Regions from separate parts of the Homo sapiens genome. Here region 1 is linked to region 2. Evidence: fine-mapped expression QTL. Tissue or cell type: whole blood. Region 2 holds a variant in brackets; the other region holds the start of a gene. All regions are shown on one strand. Distances are from middle to middle.

Evidence for each region. PIP is the estimated chance that this variant, and not a neighbour inherited with it, causes the effect.
Region 1: it holds the start of CYP4V2, and the variant in region 2 is fine-mapped to the expression of CYP4V2 in whole blood (INTERVAL, PIP above 0.99).

Annotation. Positions count from the first base shown.
Region 1 is chr4:186,190,418-186,193,182 of GRCh38, reverse strand. CYP4V2 (cytochrome P450 family 4 subfamily V member 2) reads right to left here and starts at 1,616. Exons shown (of 11, transcript NM_207352.4): 1 at 1,146-1,616. The coding sequence starts at 1,359. FLJ38576 (a long non-coding RNA gene) reads left to right here and starts at 1,693. Exons shown (of 1, transcript NR_046264.1): 1 at 1,693-2,765. RefSeq lists a silencer at 1,290-1,819.
Region 2 is chr4:186,239,195-186,241,959 of GRCh38, reverse strand. The region is part of intron 6 of KLKB1 (kallikrein B1); the gene reads right to left. LOC124900873 (a long non-coding RNA gene) reads right to left here. Exons shown (of 2, transcript XR_007058497.1): 2 at 1,466-2,765. Among named protein-coding and RNA genes, the nearest start is that of KLKB1, 13 kb to the right of the region's middle. RefSeq lists an enhancer at 250-855. The variant C/A (reference allele first, on the strand shown) is at 1,066.

The sequences.
Region 1 (2,765 bases), 49 kb after region 2:
GGGTGGTTAGCTCTGCTTTTAGAATTAACTGAGATGATTTTTACCAGTGTGATTTTCATATCTGTGTTGGATTACTTGTTACATCAGTCATGATGATATTTGGTTGGCAAAGAGTTCGCTTGATTTTTTTCTGTCAAAGTATTTTTAATATTTTGGTAAACACTCTTCCATGAGGCCTCATCTTGTGAAGTTGAAATTACAGCATTATTTTTATTAGAGAAAACAAGTGAAAATGAGAAAAAGTCCTTCAAGCTTTGGAGTTAGTTAATGCTCAGCCTGTAAAACGATTACTAACAAATAATCCCAGAGGAAACTGGGTTCTGGTCTGGGCCAATTTTAAAATATGCCATTTTGGGCAAATCTTCTCATTTCTGGGTACCTCAACGTAATCCCTGATGAAAATAAAACTCTGAGATCGAGTTCGCCCTCCCTGACAGGGAGTTGTAAATACCAGGTACTTTTGAGAGCTTTCTAACTTAACGTGATTTTTTTCCATCAATAAAATGTCCATCTCTGTTTTAAAACATGATTTTAATTAAAAAATTCACTCTTTAATAAACAAGGCGTTTGACACCCTCCAAAGAAGTCTGCCTGAAGGCCCTGCCGTCTCTTAATTGTTATTATGTAACATCCTTTAAAGGGCTAAAGTATGAAGGTCAAGCGGGAACTGAAGCAGCAGTCAAGTCTTGTGATGCCGGGAGGAAGCGTCCAGTGAATCTCTAGTCTCTTATTTTCCAAAGTGGCAGCGAGAGGAGGGCGGCTCTGGGCGTTAAGGTGTTGGCCAGTTTAAAACCGCTCTGTGCTCCCAGGGAGCTTCTGTTCCTAAGGCTTCCCAAGCCAAGGCAGGAGGAAACGGCAGGGCTTTGAGAGCTGAGCAGCGGTGAGGTGGGAAAAGACCGAGGGCAGGGGTTTGGAAATACCGCATCCTGTGCTACACACAAAGAAAATGCTCACTTTGGGATGGGGCACTAGCAGTGTCGGCGGGTGCCAAGGGGCAACGACTAGAACTGGGAGTGCATTCTCCACAGGGTGACAGGCTCCTCTCTCCTGCGGCCAGCGCCACAAGCAGCGGGTTCCTGGCTGATCGGAGGGTGGGAACGGGGCTGCGGACCCCGTTGCGCTCCAGGAGGAGCGCCGGCCCTTACCTCGCCCGTCCGGCTTCATCAGCAGCGCGTGGCCCACCAGTGGGTAGGCGCGGGCCACCGTGGGGATGGGCCGCATCTGCTGCCATTTCCGCGCGTAGCTCGCCACCCTCTGCAGCAGGCTCAGGACCAGACTGGCGCCGGCCAGGGAAAGGGCACTCGCCGCGCCCCACAGCAGCAGCTTCTGCCACACGAGCCCCAGCCAGAGCCCCGCCATCGCCCCGGCTGGCGGCCGCGGGGTGCACTCCGGGAAAGTGCGGGCCCGCGGGGGCGTGGTGCGAGGCGGTGCCGGCCGCACACCGCCCACTTCCCCGCGCGGACCTGGCGCGCTCCCCGCTGCGGGGTCGCCCGGTCCCCGGAACGACGTTTCCCGCCCGGGCGGCGGCCAGAGAGGGCGCCACGGGGCTGTTCCTGCGCCCGGCCCGGCCTACGCAGCACCGCGGCCTCCACGCCCCAGCCGAAAGCGAAAGACCGGAAAACGGTTTCCGGGCCCCAGGGCGTAGTGATTGCACTGGAGGCCCGGAGGCTGCGCCGGGAGGAGGCCGGCGACACTTCCGGCCGCCTCCGGATGCGGGGTCAGGGGCGTCGGAAAGGTCACCGCGGCAGCCCGGCGCGCCCCAGCGGGGCTGTTCTGAGGGTGCTGCGAGGTTGCTCTACGTGCGGGATTCCGCGGGCGGGCAGCCTGCTCTGGAGAGGAAAGGAAGGCGCATCCGGCTCGGAGCCCAGCTCTGCTGCGCATCGCTCGCTCCCTGCGCAACTTGCAGCCCCGGGAGGCGGGGCGCGTCCTGGCTCCCGCGGGGTCACATGGAGCAGCGGGCGCTGTAATCCAGGGAGGCTTTGGGGACACGTTAGGGAAGTCAGCTACCCGTGTGTGTCCGCTGGCCCACTGGGACACTGGGAGCTCAATGAGGTGGTTATGAGCCAGGTATTTTCCAAAATACGCACCAGGCACCAGACCGAGGAAGCCGGAGCCCCGGAGAGCACGCAGGGGCGGGTGGGAGAGGAAGGCGGGCGAGGCTGCTCAGCGGGTGCCGGGAGACCGCAGCCGCGGGGTACTCGCAGAAGAGCCAAGACCTGCCACCCAGCCCGGGAAGGGAGGGAAGGGCCGCGAGAGGGTGCCCCATTTCAGCCTGGGGAGACGCGTGTGCTGGCCGCCAGTCTCTCTTCCCGGCAGAGGGCCCCAGTGCTGACCCCAGCCCCTTTTCCACGCTCGATGCTTCTTACAAAGTGGCCGGGCGAGGAGTGTCGCTCCCCGAGAGGCCAGGCCCTTCCTAAACACTAAAGTGCCAGGAAGATGAAACTGAATGTCCTGGATGCCCGCTTTGCTTAATTACTAATTACGTTCGTTCACTCGAAGCCACTGCATAAGTTGGCCACAGCCACCTGCAGGGCCTCTTTAGTGCAGAGAAAAACATGCCTAAGGCTTTTCTCCATTTGAATTTGTTTTAAGTCATCTGCATGGGCTGACGTGAAATAGCAAGTGAACAAAACAAGTTGCAGAACGGAGTGTGTAAAGTAATGCCTTCTTTTGGAGAAAAGGTTTCTTTCTCTACGGCTCCACTAATGTCTGCAAGTAAAAATACTGATCAGCTCTATGGAGTGGGAATGAAGATGGGGAACTTA
Region 2 (2,765 bases):
GACATTAAATATATGCAATACTTCAGCCCAATGTCCTAACCTGTTAAAATTGTTTTTACTTTGCTTTTCCTATCTAATATGTTGGGCACTATTTATAGATATTTTGGCCAAGCAACCAGTTGATTTCTAGGACATTCTCTATTTCAAGTATGCCATCTGGTTAGCCTCCGAACAGAAACCATGATGTTGCTTCCCCTAATTGCAATTTTATCAACCAGCTTCGTTTATCAGACTTTCTTCCCCAGAGGTGATAAAAATAAAAAAACCTTTTTTTTCCAATTTATGTTTTCCTCCTTTTGGCTTGAAAATATGTGTACCATCTCAATTGATAAATTAATAAGTCACATGGTAGGAATTTTCCATGTCAGAGTTGCAAATGGTTTTGTTAAATTAACTGAGGAAACGTGGTTAGCCTGACATCTCTCAAGATCTATGCAGGAAGATGGACCACAAGAGAAGGAAATCTGTAAATATAATGAATTCATATGTGTTGAGAGGCAGGAGGCTTTAAAACACCATTAAATCCATTAAAAAAACAAAAGGTGGAGTGAGCACTGTGAAATGTGTGTGACCCAAGGGTCGAGTTCTGGTTCAGCTCATCAGCTGTGTTGCCCCCGGAGCACCTTCACTTCTACCCTCCTTCCAGGAGCCTTAGGGGTTTTGTTTGTAAAATTAGGAAAATCCTTGGTGAAACCAAGGACAAATCTGTAGTGATAACTACAGATCATCCCTAACTTATGAATCTCATTTGGGCAGTTAGGCCAGGAGACAGCCCTACTCTAGGTTTAGGAGGCATGTGGCTACTGGGTGTTCCCTGAGGAACGGGGACCACGTACTCAGTGAAAAGCCACGCCCTTAGCAGCTCAAAACACCACCTGAAACAGCCATATTTTTATCAGTCTGTAAAGGCCATTTGATCCGATTAAATCACATGTGAACTCACTGCAATTTAACAAGAAAGCAAGTACACAGATGAGCCATCCAGGGTGCTCTCCCAGGTGTGGACAGCAGCTGTGACAGCCCAGAGCCACAGCACGAGCTTGCCTGTTCCCTGGGTAAGTGCAG[C/A]AAATCCTTCCAGCAACAGGGCTGGGTACAGAATGGAGCATGTTTGCATCGAGTCCTGCCTCCTGGCAGCCTTCAAAAACTCTCCCAGAAAAAAATAATATGAACGTTAAAATTAAATCACCAGTACACGTGAACCTGGCACACACCATGGAGAAGGTGTGCTGTCGCAAAGAGGAGACAGGAAAATAGCCACCTTGTAACCAACCTTCCCAATCTTCCACAGGGAAATCCTAGCCCAGCACCCAATACAGGGCCAGGCACAGAGCCAGCACCCAGTACTGCGGAAAACTGGCCGTAAGGGATTTGCTTTTAGTAACATCTTGTCATTAACATCCTGACATGCTAAATGAGGTGGAATGTCATGGCAATTTTCTGGATAATTCCATTGAAATTACCTTTATGTGTGAAACGACAGAGTTTTATTTCCCTACCCCTGGTAGAGTCATTTCACTAGATAGGGACACAACCAAGGAATGACCTTACAGTTTTGCTACAACATCACTGTACCTATAACTATAACAATATCACTGTCCTATAACTATTACAACGTCACTGTACCTATAACTGTAACAATATCACTGTCCTATAACTATATCACTGTCCTATAACTATAACAATATCACTGTACCTATATCACTGTAACTACATCACTGTCCTATAACTATAACAATATCACTGTCCTATAACTATAACAATATCACTGTACCTTTAACTATAACTATACCACGGTAACTATAAGAATATCACTGTCCTATAACTATAACAGTATCACTGTCCTATATCACTGTACCTATAACTCTAACAGTATCACTGTACTAGTTTCCTATAACTATAACAATATCACTGTCCTACAACTATAACAGTATCACTGTACTAGTTTCCTATAACTATAACAATATCACTGTCCTATATCACTGTACCTATAACTCTAACAGTATCACTGTACTAGTTTCCTATAACTATAACAATATCACTGTACCTATAACTATAACAGTATCACCGTACTAGTTTCCTATAACTATAACAATATCACTGTCCTATATCACTGTCCTATAACTATAACAGTATCACTGTACTAGTTTCCTATAACTATAACAATATCACTGTCCTATATCACTGTACCTATAACTCTAACAGTATCACTGTACTAGTTTCCTATAACTATAACAATATCACTGTCCTATAACTATAACAGTATCACTGTACTAGTTTCCTATAACTATAACAGTATCACTGTCCTATATCACTGTACCTATAACTCTAACAGTATCACTGTACTAGTTTCCTATAACTATAACAGTATCACTGTCCTATGTCACTGTACCTATAACTCTAACAGTATCACTGTACTAGTTTCCTATAACAGTATCACTGTCCTATATCACTGTACCTATAACAGTATCACTGTACTAGTTTCCTATAACTATAACAATATCACTGTACCTATAACTCTAACAGTATCACTGTACTAGTTTCCTATAACTATAACAATATCACTGTCCTATATCACTGTACCTATAACTCTAACAGTATCACTGTACTAGTTTCCTATAACTATAACAATATCACTGTCCTATATCACTGTCCTATAACTATAACAGTATCACTGTACTAGTTTTCTATAACTATAACAGTATCACTGTCCTATATCACTCTACCTATAACTCTAACAGTATCACTGTACTAGTTTCCTATAACTA